Homo sapiens: one gene and its partner. The protein of the gene in region 1 binds, or shares a complex with, the protein of each later gene. Each region holds a gene or a part of one and is shown on either strand. Other genes may lie near its edges.

Region 1 (8,138 bases):
TGGGTCTCGGAGGGCCTTGCCACACACCGGGCACAAGTGGGCCTCCCCGGTGTGTGAGATGAGATGGCGCCGCAGTTCAGGCAGCTGGGGGAAGGCATCGGCACAGTGTGGGCAGCGGTAAGGACGCTCCCCGGTGTGGAGCCGCAAATGCCCACGCAGGTTGCCCCGCTGACGAAACGCCCGGCCACAGTGCGGGCACAGGAAAGGCTTTTCTCCTGTATGGAGCCTCATATGGTTCCGCAGGGAGCCCTGGTTGGCCAGGGGCCGCCCACACACAGGGCATGGGCAAGGGGCAGGGGCAGCTGGCACCTGGTGGGTCTTGCGATGCAGCCGCAGGGAGGGCCGGCGGGCAAAGGCCTTGCCACACTGGTCACAAGCAAAGGGCCGGGCACCTGAATGTACCACCTGGTGCTCTTTGAGGTCTCGCTGGGTGCCATAGGCCTTGTCGCATTGTGGACAGGGGAAGGGCCGCACCCCACGGTGGCCCAGCATATGGGCTTTGAAGCTCTCCTCTGAGCTATAGCTCTTGCCACACTCAGTGCAAAGAAAGGGCTTGTGGCCCGTGTGCACAAATGCGTGCTTCTTTAGGTGGCACAGCTGTAGGAATGCCTTGCCACACTCTCCACACCGGTACCGTCGCCCCTGCTTTGGGGAGCTTCCTGCTGGGCCAGGAGGGCTCCGCGAGAGTGTAGGGAAGCCAGACTGCTGGGCTCCAGGCTCTGGGGTCTTTGCTCTGGGTGGGCACTGATCACTGGGGCTGTGTAACTTCTTGGCCAGGTAGCCATGCGGCTGGGTGCCCCTGGCAGAAGATGAGAAACTGGCTCCACTGCCATCTGGGTCCTGCTGGGTAGCCGAATTGCTCTGAAGTTCAGGTGGCATCTGTGCCTGGGCCGGGCATTCCTCATCCACGTCGCCATCCTGAAGCAATGGGCCAAGTGGCTGGCTATCCTTGGAAATTCGGTCCTGGGTTGGGAACTTAAGTCCAGGGCTCACCATATTCTCTGCCTGGATGCCAGAGGGTGACTGGGAACCAGGATCTGCAAGGCAAGGATGGGGTACTGGGTTTAGGGAGCTTCAATGCAGATGGTGTTACCAGGGAATTACAGGATCAGATGTTTTCTCCCACCCAGCCCCTGAGCCTTAGAGGGAGCAATGATACCAATCTCTTCCCTGGAGCATGGGGTGCACACTCCATTTATCTTCCTGTCCAGCCTTAAGCGCCTTTTGGAGAAGCACTCCTGAGAGCCATGGGGTCCCAGCCATCTGGATAATCACTAGAATAAGGCCATCCCAGATGGAGAATCCCCTTGTTCGCCCCTGGAGACACATATTTAGGATGTGATTCAAGACCCCTTCCAGCCGGGCACGGTGGCTCACACCTGTTAAGCCTAGCATCTTGGGAGGCAGAGACAGGCAGATCACTTGAGGCCAGGAGTTCGAGACCAGCCTGGCTGACATGGTGAAACCCCATCTCTACTAAAAATGCAAAAAAATTAGCTGAGGCTGAGGCAGGAGAATCACCTGAACCTGGGAGGCAGAGGTTGCAGCGAGCTGAGACCACGCCATTGCACTCCAGCCTGGGCGACAGAGTGAGACTCCATCTCAAAAAAAAAAAAAAACAACAACAACAACAACAACAACAACAAAACAAAACAAAACAAAAAAACCCCTTCCCACCTTAGCTCATCTGTAATATAAAAGAACCCCCACGCCAGAGAGAAGAAACATGGGAGGCTGGAAACCGTGTACATACAAAGCTTACTCTCTTTCTTACTATTCCAGGAAGCTCTTAGGAAGGTAAAAGTTGCAAATATCTATATTGTTATTCCAAAGAACAGACCCGTCGCTCTTCAACAGAAAGCAATGAATGACAATTCATAGTCTGAGACTGTCCCTTGCCTGAAAATTCTAGCCTTGCTGTATGTACCAACCCTAAGCTATTCAGTCATAATCCTTACCCAATACTAATCAAGCCCCACCCTCCTATCCCATGTTGAAAGATCCACCTTAAAACAGATTTTGAAAAGCTACTAAGACTCTATAGTGTCCTTCCTTACCGCAATGAGCCATAAACTCTGCTTTGTCTTATCAACAGGTTGTTTTGGTGGGGAAATTGCTGGGAAACCAGCATTTATTTGACACATACCTATGCAAGGTTCTGCTGCATCCTCCCCAGGGGAGGCCACTTCCTGCTGTACAGCAGACTCCACTTCTGTCACCACTGCTACAGCTGCCTCTTTGTCCAGCCCAGGCTGGGTGAGACTTGGGCCCTCAGAGGAAGGCTGGGGCCACAGCAGCAGTTCAGAGCCTGGCAGCACCAGCTGGTACACTTGCAGATGAAGCCTCTCGCTGATCCGCACTGGGGCCACATTTCCCTCACTCTCCAGCCTGCCCCGTTGTACCAAGCTGCAAAGCAAAGTAACAGCCAGCTAGGAGATGCTCACTATTCAAGTGGTCTTCCCCGAAAGCCCCAGTCCCCAAGCAGTCTGGGTCCTAAAGGACGCCGTGCCTTTGGAACATTCACTGCAAAAGAGCACTGAATAGGAAATGACAGTCAGCACCGGGTTCCATCCCAAACCACAACAGAAAACCTCAAAGGAACGACACACTCTCCTCTGACTTACCTAGTCCAGCCAGAACTCTGCTCACAGGCACACACGTCTCCCCATGGGCCTAATGACAGGTTCTGAAATAAACCAACAAAAGTCCTTCTCAAATGTGTTCGAGGGGTCGGGTAGGAATAAAAAAAGAAACTAGATGAAACTTTCCTGGGACAAATTTAAGATGAAACTCCTGGAAGGTTAGAAGCCTCTGGTTCTCCTCTAACAGGACAGTGCTGTCTGATTCTTCATTCAGTAAGGACCAAAAAGTCTGTCTCCTCACCTCCCTCCCAAGGGTATGGAGAATTACTAAATTGAACACATTACTGTCTTCCAGTGAGTACTAAACAGAAAAAGTAATAAGGAACACCAGCTTTTTAAAATGGTATTTATTGGGCCAGGCGCGGGGGCTCACACCTGTAATCTCAGCACTTTGGGAGGCCCAGGCAGGCGGATTACTTGAGGCCAGGAGTTTGAGACCAGCCTCACCAACATGGTGAAACCCTGTCTCTACTAAAAATACAAAAATTAGCTGGGTGTGGTGGTGCACATCTGTAATCCCAGCTACTCGGGAGGCTGAGGCATGAGAATCACTTGAACCTGGGAAGTGGAGGTTGCAATAAGGCGAGATCGTGCCACTGCACTCCAGCCTGGGCGACAAAGCAAGACTGTCTAAGAAAAAAGAAAAATAAATAAAATAAAATGGTACTTATTGTGCAGTGAAACCTTTTATCTTCACTATTTCATCAGCTCCTCCATATAATCCCAAGAGAGCCACTGCTTTGTTTCACAGATGAATTAAATGCGGCACGTAATTTAACCAGCTAGGTGACAAAGCTGGAATTTGATCCCATGCTTTCTTAATTCCAAAAACCTTAGCTCTTGACCTTCCTCACTCACTGCTGACACTGTATGATTCCAGCTTTCAACAACTTTTCAAACCTCGATTCTTTAACTACTGCTGCTGAGAGGAGACAGTCCTGAAGAGAAGGGACAAGACTATCTCCTATCTCTTGAAATACTCTCTTTCTTCAAATTGAAAAGCTGTCTAGCAATGTCCAAACCTCCCCTACATTTTCAAGGGCGGAGGGAAGTCGCTCTATCCTTCAATACCTCCTCCTGCCGTGGCTTTACTCCCTCGCCCTTCTCCTTGGAGGCAGACTCCTCTTCCAGCGGCCCCCACAGCAGGCCGGGCTGCAGGGGGTCCCCGACACACCAGACCCCCAAGCGCTGTTCCTTGGCGAGTGAGGGGCCAAGGGCCAAGCCCCGGGGAAGGCTCTTTAAAGCGAGGATGTCTCGGGTCGGCTCGGGTGGGACGTCTTTGAGGCCCTGCGTACAGCCTTCTCCGGAAGGGTTCCATCCTAAGTCCAGGCCCAGGCGCGGCTCGCGGGCTGCAGAGAGAAGGGAAGACAGTGAGGGAGCCACCCAAGAAGGTGGGAGGTGGGGAAAAGTGTGGGAGGAAACCGCAGGTCCAGGTGGGCCTGCGGAGCCCGAGGGACAGGTGAGGGCTCTAAGGAGGGCCCTGAAAGTTTTGAGGAGGCTCAAGGGCTCTTCAGAAGCCCCCAGCGACTCTGAGGGCACTGGAGGATCCTGGGATCCGGAGGAGAGAAGACTGAGGAGAAAGCTGACCACAGAGCGTCAGATCCACCTGGGCCAAGGTTGAGGGTCGCGGACATCGCAGGTCACTCACCGAGTTGCAGCGCCTTCTTCCCCTCCAAGAGCAGCTCCTCCGCCTCCTCCATTCCGGGTCAGAAAGCCTCCCTACGCCGGAAGTGAGCTTCCTCTTCTCAGCTCCTCCAGGAAACAGTCACGGACTTCCAAATTTTTTTCTCAGGAAAGAAGCCTCAGAGCTGGACCTCATTGGTGCACAGGACTGGGAGTTTGGGAGTACTGGGGAGGCAGAACTCTGTCCGAGAGCAATGCGAACCTCGGATTCCGGAGGTGCACCAGTGATTCGACTAGCTGGGAAAGCGGAACTAATTGTTCCAGCCATCTCTTTGGGAGCGACGAGTCGGACAGTTATGCTGTTACCTCCCCGAGGCAGGAACTTAGGCGGGCATGTGCAGGAAGTGGGCGGGGCTCCTGGAAAGGCCATGTTTGGGGCCGGAAGTGGGTTGGAGGTGTGGCGGAAATGGTTGGGGATAGAAGAGAGCGGGAGGGGGCGGTTCCCGTTCCACCGCGGAGCCGGATGTTTGCCGAGCCTTGACAGGCGTGGCAGAGGGAGCAGTGCCCGAGCGCGGTGAGCTGCTGGGCGCGGGGTCTCCCCGGGTGGGGATGGGGAAAGGAAAGGAGCTGGCCAGGTCGTCCGAAGGGATGGGGTCCGGATGGGGAGGACCGGAGCAGATCCGAGGAGGGGAACGGGGGTGGAACTGGGCTCAGAGGCCTGGCCTTCCTGCAGGGTTTCTGCCCCATTTTGGCGCCTGCAATAAGAGGACTTAATCATTTTCACTACCTTCTTCCTGCCTTCCCCAGGGCAGAGTCCAGGCCGGATCGCTGTCATCCAGCAAGCCGGCGGGAGGGGGAAATCTCCCAGATCTGATCTGGCAAAGCACTAAGAAGAAGAAATTTGGGGGAAGTGTTCCTCCTTGCCACTTATTAGGCCACGCTTTCAGTTCAACTTATTTATTTTTTTAAGACGGAGTTTCACTCTTATTGCCCAGGCTGGAGTCTCGGTTCACTGCAACCTCCGCCTCCCGGATTCAAGCGATTCTCCTGCCTCAGCCTCCTGAGTAGCTGGGATTACAGGCGTCCGCCACCACGCCCGGCTAATTTTTGTATTTTTAGTAGAGACAGGGTTTCACCATGTTGGCCAGGCTGGTCTCGAACTCCTGACCTCGTGATCCTCCCGCCCCCGCCTCCCAAAGTGCTGGGATTATAGACGTGAGCCACTGCGCCCGGCCTCAGTTCAACTTCTTAATCTGTGAAACAGGATAATTGCAAAACGTAACCTGGGCTTTGTAAACCGTGAAGCTCTATGCAAACATAATTGTAGTTGAGAGTTGTAATTGCTGTTGTATTGTGGTGGGATTTGCAACTGGGAGGCCGATTCCAACGTTGAGAATATGATTTCTTTTCTTTTTTTTTTTTTAGACGGAGTCTCACTCTGTCGCCCAGGCTGGAGTGCAGTGGCGTGATCTCGGCTCACTGCAACCTCCGCCTCCCGGGTTCAAGCGATTCTTCTGCCTCAGCCTCCCAGGTAGCTGGGAGTACAGGCGCGCGCCACCACACCCGGCTAATTTTTGTATTTTTAGTAGAGATGGGGTTTCACCATCTTGGCCAGGTTGGTCTCCAAATCCTGACCTTGTGATCCGCCCGCCTCGGCCTCCCAAAGTGCTGGGATTACAGCCGTGAACCACCGTGCCCGGCTGGTCCTCTCTTTCCTCACTGTAAAATGAGCTTAGTAGAACATGCCTCATCAGTGCTATCGTGAGGTTGAGTTTGTGTCCCCAGTTCATGGTCCTATATAGGCCCTCAACAAGTGTGGGTTCCCTTCTTTACTTAGGAGATGAATTAATTGGTTCATTCATTCAACAAATGATAGCATCTACTATATATCAGGTGTCATTCTGAATAGACCAGAAGTTCTTAAACAGTGATTCTCAGAAGGTGTATGAACCTCTTAAAATTGCATACATCTCCTAAGTTTTCTTAGGGAAAAAGTCCACACATGTTACCAATTTCAGAAAAGTCTACAACTTCCTAAAAGTGATTGCCTAAGGTGATCCTTAAGATTTTTGTAAAGGTTTACCTGCTGAGAATGGAAAAATTAATCTCAGAGTTGGGTGTATTTTGCACAGAGTAGAGCAGGCTTGTGGGTGGCTGGTGTCTTAAACAGGCAGGATACTTCATTTCTACTACTTGATGTTAGAATTTCCCTGTGCTAGCTTCCTCACCCTCCCACTGAATGGGAGTTTAACTTCCAGGCTCAGAAGTTAAACTGTGGGTTGGGGGTAGTGGGAGGGGCCAGTCTGACTGGGAGATGGGAACCACTGGGCTTAGTTATGCTGGGAAAGGAGGTTATGTGGGGGCGTTGAGGGAGGTCATGTCTGGAAGAACTGACAGCATAGAAGAGCAGTCACTGGAAAAGAGGTGAAGTTCAAGTTCAGCTCCCTTTTAGATGGTGTCCTTCTCCCTCCTTCACATCCACCCCAGCTCCCAGCTGCTCCTTTTTTTTTTTTTTTTGAAACAGAGTTTTGCTCTTTTGCCCAGGCTGGAGTGAAGTAGCTTGATCTCAGCTCACTGCAACCTCCACCCCCTGGGTTCAAGTGATTCTCCTGCCTCAGCCACCTGAGTAGCTGGGATTACAGGCACCCACCACCATGCCTGGCTATTTTTTTTTTTTGTACTTTTAGTAGAGATGGGGTTTCACCATGTTGGCAAGGCTGGTCTTGAACTCCTGACCTCTGGTGACCCACCCACCTTGGGCTCCCAAAGTGCTAGGATTACAGGCATGAGCCACCGTGCCCGGCCCCGGCTGCTCCTTCTAATCCTGTTGTTCACTGCAGCACAAAGTATTTCTGAACACTGGAGAATTATATTTCTGGGAGGCGCCATTGCCTCTACAGAGGAGGAAATTTAGGCCCAAGTAGGAAAAGGACTTGCTCAGCATCTTTGCAGCTCACTGGCTTAGGCAGGATGATAATCCAGCTCTCCATACTACCTCATCATTTCATGGCATCAGCACCTACTTTGTGCAGAAAGATGTCTCTGGGATAGCTGTAGGTGGGGCTGAAGGAGCCCCTGGTCCCTGGGCAGTGACAGGCTGAATAGAAAGGGTAGAGAGAAGGCTCTGGCCTGGAGGGGGTTGCTTTGAGCTGGATTCTGTCTTTATTACCCAGCTGGAGGTCGCTATGGGGAGCAGCTCCCACAGCCTCCTGGCTGGATGGCAGGAAGCACATGTAGATATTGAAGGGTTGAAGGGTTGAAGGGTTGAAGGCTGAAGGGGAGTGAGGGAGCTGGGCTTTGGCATCACTCAGAGAAATGCATTCCTGACCGTGAGGGATCATTCTTCTCTGTGTTCTTGGGAAGGGATTATATTTTGGTGGTAACCAGGGGTAGTGGATGAGGACAGGGGACAGGGAGAGGAAGAAGAGGGTTTTTTTGGGCTGTTTTCGCTGGTTGGCTTTGGCTTGGGAGCATGAAACAGCGTTACCACTCAATCCGTGTGGTTGCCCTGGTGATAGGGTGGCTGTTGCTAGGCACAGGGAGAGGGCTCACCATCCAGGGCCCTTGGCTGTGATGTGATGTGTGCAGGAGGTTGTCAAGTGGCCTCAGAGCCCAGAGTCTGTGGCTCTGGGATGGCAGCTCTCCCCCTCTTCTTCCTGCCCACCCCCAGGGCTTGTCTGCTCTCCTTATCTGCCCTGCTGATTCTCTGACCATATATGTCAGTTTTGGGGCTCCAGGAATGCAGCTGGACATGGAGCAGCCTCTTCCCTGGGGTTAGACTGAATAGGTTGAACTAAAAACTGCCCTCCCTCATGTGGGGAGCTTGTGGCAGGAGGGGGAGTTGCTGCCCATTAGGGCTGAGGGCAGAGGTGC
Region 2 (7,241 bases), on another chromosome or scaffold:
CAGATCAGCCTGGACAACATGAGGAAACCCGATCTCTACAAAAGATACCAAAATTAGCCGGGTCTGGTTGCATGCACCGTAGTCCCAGCTACTGCAGAGGCTGAGGTGGAAGGATCAGTTGAGCCTGGGAGGCCGAGGCTGCAGTGAGCTGTGATCACACCACTGCACTCTAGCCTGGGCGACAGAGTAAGACCCTGTCTCCAAAAAAAAAAAAAAAATCACCAATTTTTTTTTTAACTCCCTATACTACTCTAGGCTATAACATCTGCCTTAGATTCCCAAAAAATTAAGTTTAATACGGACAGGTATTGGTTGTAACATGAAAACATTTTAAGAGTATAAACAGAGGATGTGATACCTTTCTGGTCTTGAAGAAATTACTGAAAACGAGCTCATTCAATACTTAGTTGATTACCAAACTCTTATCTCCATCTCAGTATAAAAACTATAAATTCAGGCCGGGCACGGTGGCTCACGCCTGTAATCTCAGCACTTTGCGGGGACGAGGCGGGCGGATCACGAGGTCAGGAGATCAAGACTATCCTGGCTAACACCGTGAAACCCCGTCTCTACTAAAAATACAAAAAATTAGCCGGGCGTGGTGGCGGGCGCCTGTAGTCCCAGCTGTTCGGGAGGCTGAGGCAGGAGAATGGTGTGAACCTGGGAGGCGGAGCTTGCAGTGAGCTGAGATTGCGCCACTGCACTCCAGCCTGGGAGACAGAGCGAGACTCCTTCTCAAAAAAAAAAAAAAAAAAAAAAAAAAAAAAAAAAAAAAAAAAAAAAAAAATATATATATATATATATATATATATATATACATAAATTCAAACTACTGTTACTTTCTAAAAGGAAAGATACAAATTGATATTATTTAAAATTATTAAAAATAGAAAGCTCAAGAAAATAAGGCAGATGTGTTCCAATTTTATATGCCTAAAATATTACATCAAGGCTAACAAATGTATTTCAGAAGATTCAAGTTCCACACCTATCCAATGGTCTGTAATGCCTACACACTACAGAAAGCTGCCTTGAACCTACACTCCTTTTAAGTGTTTACCAATCTGTTCTCTATAGAAATGAGAAACAGTGGGAAAGCACTTGTTTCGACATGAATTATCTTTACAACAATGCATTACACAATTGGATCTCATTTGCTTTACAGAGTCAACATTTTTGTGTGATACTATTGCAGTCGCGGAAGGATACAAAATTTAGAATGTAAACACCCTAGGGAACAAAAATTGTGATCTCTGCTTGACCCCAGGAGTCCGAGACCAGCCTGGGCAACATGGCGAAACCCTGTCTGTACAAAAAATACAAAAATTAGCGGGGCATGGTGGTACATGCCTGCAGTACCAGCTACTCGGGAGGCTGAGGTGGGAGGCTCACTTGACCCCGGGAGGCGGAGGCTGCGGTGGGCCAAGATCGCGCCACTGCACTGCAGCCTGGGAGTGCAATATCCATTATATTTAGTAACGTCTTTGAGACCCTGTCTCAAAAAAAATAAAAATTGTGATCTCAAAATTATGAAAATATTAAGTTTTTTGCTTAAAGATCGAAGTCTCGTTTTTAATAACAAAACTAAAATGTCTAGCATAGATCAGGCATAAACTGATCCTCTTTTCAACACAACTTCACCACAAAAAGTGCACTTGAATCAACCTAGGGAGATTCCCAGCATGCAGTAAGTCATAAAGGAGAATAAACAGTCTGGGAAAGTCATTTTGGACCGAAAAGTGTTCCCACAAATAAACCCACCTCATTCTAGTATAGTCAAAGGGACCTCTATTTAAAGTTAATGCCACGCAAGGGGCCGTGGACGGTGTTGTCTTACACTTTATTCCCTGACACAAACTAATCCTGGGATTTTAAACCTTCCTAGCTTTTAGGTGCACTGAAGGCGGTCATGAACACAAGTAACAAGCTTTCAAAACATCATCTGTGAATACGACGTGTTGGGAAGCAGGCAGGATAAGCCACTGGGTGACCGACTAAGGCTGCAAAATGCTGTTTGAATTTAAGTCCCTGACTTGTAGGAGTTAAGTCTCACTCCTTATACCGCGATGACGTAATCTTCCACACTACATTTATCTTGGACTTAAAGGGGAGGAAAAACAAACGAACAAAGAAAATTCCCCCCCGATAAGAGGAATTAACCAAGCAGCAGAACGACGGCTTCGGGAGGTAGTTAGGTAACTCCCCGAAAGGGAAGCTTCAGCTAAACCGGCAGGGAGCGGGCTGGAGGAGCGGATGGAAATGCTAGGAACTCGACCTCCGAAAGGAAGAGCAGCCTGGAGGCCGTGGCTCGGGGCCACCCCGCCCAGAGGACGCGGCCGGCGCGGAGGGGAGCTCGGACAGGCACCGCCGCGAGCAGCCAGCGAGCTGCCCTCCTGCCACCGCCCCGCCGCGGCCGCAACGCCACTCCCCTCCCCCGCCCCCCCACCCCCGCCGCAAAATGTCCGCGGCGGCGCCCGGCGAAGCAGGAAGTCCAGGCCGGAGCGCAGGGCACGGAACGCAGCCTGCCAGCACGGAAGACCGGCGCCCGGCCCGGCCCAAGCGCCCGCGAGTCGCTCTGAGGCCCCCGGCCGCCCTTAGGAGCCCGCCGGGCCGGGCTGGGGGGAGGGGAGCCCGGGCGCCCAGGATGGGTGTGACCCCCTTCCTTCCGCCGCTGCCGGTGACAGCCCGGTCCCGCTCGCGCCCCGAGCCCCGGCCGCGCGCCCCTCCTCAGACGGGCGCCCCCTGCCTCCCCGGCCGCGACCCCCGCCCCGGCTCCCCCACAGAACGCGGACCCGCGCCCGCCCGGAGGACGCAGCGCGAGCCGGGCACTCCCCCACAACCCGTGCTCCCGGGCCCCCCACGATCCCGCAGACGGGGTGTCCCCGAGGACTGGGAGAGGACGGAGACGGCGGGGATGGGAAGGTAGGGTGGCAGCTCCCGCGGGGAACCTCGGGCCCCGCACTCACCTCAGCTTCTCCACCGGGGCGTTGGCAGCACTGCGCGGGGTCTCCTCGGCTGCCGGACAGGGGCACGCACCTGACGTCAGCGCGCAGGAGACGCACAGTTGGGTGCCCGCGGAAGTGGGAGGAACAGGGAAGGGGAAGAGGCTGGGGCGGGTCAAGGCGGTGCCTGGACTGCCCTGGCTCCGCCCGCCTGTCGCGCACGCGCGGGCCGGCGCAGCTCGTGAGTTCGGGGCTATGCTCTGCATGTTTTCCTAATGGTTGTATTTGTAATAATACTGTGAACGATAGTATGCAAAGCGCTTCCTCTACCAGTTCTTTTTTGTTTGTTTTTTCTGAGACAGTCTTGATCTGTTGCCCAGACTGGAGTGCAGCGCGCGATCTCAGCTCACTGCAACCTCCACCCCTTGGGTTCAAGCGATCCTCCTGCCTCTGCCTCCCGAGTAGCTGGGATCACTGGCACCTGCCACCACGCCAGGCTAATGTTTGTATTTTTAGCAGACACGGGGTTTCACCATTTTGCCCAGGCTGGTCTCGAACCCGTGACCTCAAGTAAGTGATCCACCTGCCTCGACCTCCCAAAGTGCTGGGATTACGGGCGTGAACCACCGCGCCCGGCCCACTACCAGTTCTTTTGATCCTTGCAAGCTTGTGAAGCAAGGTATTGTCCCATTTTGCAGAGAAGACGGAAGCTTCTCTGAAAGGGCTGGTGACTTGCCCCAGATCACAGGGGTGGATGGTCTCTCACTCCCCGGGCCTGTATTCAGTCCGCCGTGATGTGAGAACTGAGTATCACTCTTCTTATCTCTACCTACACCCAGTGTCCCTCGCTGTAGCCACATGGGTCTTTTTTAGAGTTACAACCTTCCCCCAACCACAGGCCTTGTGTTTTTGTTGTTGTTGTTGTTGTTGTTGTTGTTGTTTTTTCTTTGAGACGTTCTTGCTCTGTCACCCAGGCAGGAGTGCAGTGGCACGATCTCAGCTCACTGCAATCTCGACGTCCCGGCGATTCTCCCACCTCAGCCTCCCAAGTAGCTGGGACCACAGGCGCATGCCACCATGCCTGGCTAATTTTTGTATTTTTTTGTAGACACAGGGTTTTGCTGGATTGCCCAGGCTGGTCTCGAACTCCTGGACACAAGCTATCAGCCTGCCTCAGCCTCCCAAACTGCTGGGATTACAAGGTGTGAGACATTACGTCTGGCCAAGGCCTTGAATTTCTTTGCTCTGCCTCCCTCCTCTTCCCCCAAATTTATATCACTGCATTCTTCAATCATCCTATCTTCGCAGTATCTATTATTTGTCTTCTCTGCTAGTATGAAAGCTTCAGGAAAATAGAGAACTTCCCTCTCTTATTCTTAGATGTTTCCCCATGTTAGAGAAAAATCGCTTAAATTGCTTATCCTAGGCCGGGCACGGTGGCTCATGCCTGTAATCGCAGCACTTTGGGAGGCCAAGGCGGGCGGATCACGAGGTCAGGAGATCGAGACCATCCTGGCTAACACGGTGAAACCCCGCCTCTACTAAAAATACAAAAAAATTAGCCGGGCGTGGTGGCGAGCTCCTGTAGTCATAGCTACTCGAGAGGCTGAGGCAGGAGAATGGCGTGAACCCGGGAGGCGGAGCTTGCAGTGAGCCAAGATCGCGCCACTGCACTCCAGCCTGGGCAACAGAGCGAGACTCTGTCTCAAAAAAAATAAAAAAAAATTGCTTATCTTAATAACAGCTCATTTATTGTCTACTGCCACAGCTATTTGGCCAACAAAGACACTTAATTCCAGTATATTGACTTATAGTCATATTTTCTTTTGGATTTTTTTTTTTTTTTTGAGACGGAGTCTCGCTCTGTCACCCAGGCTGGAATGCAGTGGTTCGATCTCGGCTCACTGCAATCTCCGCCTCCCGGGTTCAAGCAATTCTCCTGCCTCAGCCTCCCAAGTGGCTGAGACTACAGGTGCCCACCACCATGCCCAGCTAATTTTTGTATTTTTAGTAGAGACGGGGTTTCACCATATTGGCCAAGCTGGTCTTGAACTCATGACTTTGTGATCCACCTGCCTTGGCCTCCCAAAGGGCTGCGATTACAGGTGTAAGCCACCGCACCCAGCCCTCTTTTGGATTTTTTAATTACCCAAAAATAAGAACTACATTTTTTAGTGTTTACTGCAGGTATGGCTAATAGCTTTGCAGGTAGTAGTAGCTAATTTAATACTCACAGCCACCCTATGAGTTAAGAACTGTTACCCCCACTTTATGGTTACATGAACTGAAGCTCAGAGGTGTTAAGAGACTTGTCCATAGCCGCCATGCCAAGCAGTGGCAGAGCTGAGACTTGCACTCAGGAGGCTGGCTCTAGTTGACTATGACACTACCACACTATCAAGCAGGTTTATTATAGAGAAATTAGAAGATAAGCTTCAGGCCAGGCACAGTGGCTCACATCTGTAATCCCAGCACTTTGTGAGGCTGAGGCTGGTGGATCACCTGAGGTCAGGAGTTGAAGACCAGCCTGACCAACATGGTAAAACCCCATCTGTACTAAAAAACACACACACAAAAATTTGCTCGGTGTGGTGGCAGGTGCCTGTAATCCCAGCTACTTGGGAGGCTGAGGCAGGAGAATCATTTGAATCCAGGAGGCGGAGGTTGCAGTGACCCCGAGATCATGCCATTGCACTCCAGCCTAGGCGACAAAAAAGTGAAACTCTGTCTCAAAAAAAAAAAAAAAAAAAAGCCAGGTGCGGTGGCTCACGCCTGTAATTCCAGCACTCCGGGAGGCCGAGGTGGGCGGATCACTTGAGGTCAGGAGTTCAAGACTAGCCTGACCAACATGGTGAAACCCTTTCTCTACTAAAAATACAAAAATTAGCTGGGTGTGGCATGCACTTGTATTCGCAGCTACTCGGGAGGCTGAGACAGGAGAATCGCTGGAACCTGGGAGGCAGAGGTTGCAGTGAGCCGAGATTGCGCCATTGCACTCTAGCCTGGGCAACAAGAACAAAACCCCACCTAAAAAAAAAAAACAGGAAGATAAGCTTCAGCTGTAGTCCTACCTCTAATGTGGCTCACACCTATAATCCTAACACTTTGGGAGGCCGAGGCGGGTGGATCACTTGAGCCCAGGAGTTCAAGACCAGTCTGGGCAACATAGCAAGACCTGCCCCCACCCATCTCTACAAAAAATACAAAAACAAAACAAAACAAAAAAACTACATTGTGAACATCTTTCCATGTCAAATAAAGCATCATTTGTAAAGGCTGCATTTTACTCTCCGGGCATTGCAATATTTACCCAGACTCCTACTGTTGGAATTTGGGTTGTTTTGGGCTATTGTGAATTTATTACTATTGTAAAAATGCATAAGCTTCATTTTTTAAACTTGAGGGGAAAATGGTTGTTTCTTCCCTTCACAAGTCCAGCTGGCAGTGCCCTTTCCTTCATCCTGTCTCACAATCCCATGAATGTCCCCAGACAACGTCTGCCCTTTCCAGTAGCAGCAATATCTTGATGGGGTGTCACCCAACTGTTCAGCTTTTCCTGCCTTTATTCTGAGGACAAGGACTTACTTAGCACTATGTCTTTTATGTTGTCAGGTTTTTTGTCAGAAGAACCCTCCTAGACCTTTTCACAGCCCCAAACAGCAGTGGCAATGGTGTTACTATTACTTGACCCAATCTACCATGTCCCTCACTGCTGGCCCAGCCCCCAGCCTCCTAGTGCCTCCCCGCTACTGCCCCACTGCTATAGCTGCCTCATGTTAACAGGAGGGACAGCCTGTGGGACTCCGGCTCCCTTCCCGGTGGCTACCATTCCGGTGTCCATTCTTCCTTCTGGTAACAGCACTTCCATTTCTCCTAGAGCAGCCCCTGCCCCAACTCTCAATCCATGTGGCTCTAGAGATGACACTATCTCTAGTTGCGGGAATGGACACGTGACCCAGGCTTGGCCAATCACAGCATTATAGAGAGCCCTGTTGCCACACCATTTCAGCAACAGGCATGTGACCCAATGAGATTTAATTCTGGAACTTTGGTCACAACTATTCAGTTCAGTGAATCTCTGTTTGCTGAGAGTAGGATGTAATCGTGGCACTGCTGGCAGCCAGCTTCCCACTGCAAGCAGAGATGCTGCCTGAGAATGAGACCAAGACAGAGGGGGAAACAGAACTGAGAGATGGAGACATGAAACCAAGTCCCAGTGGCATTGCATGAGACATCAGATCCAGTCTTGCTTCAATCTTCAGTCACATTAGCAATAAATTCCCTCTATTGCCTGAACGA

Evidence for each region.
Region 2: the proteins of ARHGAP1 (region 1) and CDC42 are in contact, whole or in part, in a crystal structure (PDB 1GRN), measured with the Homo sapiens proteins. Residues at the interface, in NP_004299.1 of Homo sapiens: Glu278, Gly279, Phe281, Arg282, Arg283, Ser284, Ala285, Asn286, Thr287, Gln288, Asn309, Glu310, Val316, Lys319, Arg323, Asn385, Lys386, Met387, Asn391, Val394, Val395, Pro398, Asn399, Trp402, Ala403, Lys404, Ala406, Ala407, Thr409, Leu410; in NP_001034891.1 of Homo sapiens: Asp11, Gly12, Ala13, Tyr32, Val33, Pro34, Val36, Phe37, Gly60, Gln61, Glu62, Asp63, Tyr64, Arg66, Leu67, Leu70, Ser88, Glu91, Asn92, Glu95, Lys96, Asn132.

The regions. Positions count from the first base shown.
Region 1 is NC_000011.10:46,697,252-46,705,389, reverse strand, and holds the start of ARHGAP1 (rho GTPase-activating protein 1), read left to right. Parts: upstream 1-4,770; 5' UTR 4,771-4,839; intron 4,840-8,138. Other genes in the region: ZNF408 (zinc finger protein 408), read right to left, coding at 1-1,037, 2,147-2,406, 2,625-2,686, 3,714-3,991, 4,291-4,342. UniProt on the Homo sapiens protein: GTPase activator for the Rho, Rac and Cdc42 proteins, converting them to the putatively inactive GDP-bound state. Cdc42 seems to be the preferred substrate.
Region 2 is NC_000001.11:22,048,468-22,055,708, reverse strand, and holds the start of CDC42 (cell division control protein 42 homolog isoform 1 precursor), read right to left. Parts: upstream 3,001-7,241; 5' UTR 2,967-3,000; intron 1-2,966. UniProt on the Homo sapiens protein: Plasma membrane-associated small GTPase which cycles between an active GTP-bound and an inactive GDP-bound state. In active state binds to a variety of effector proteins to regulate cellular responses. Involved in epithelial cell polarization processes.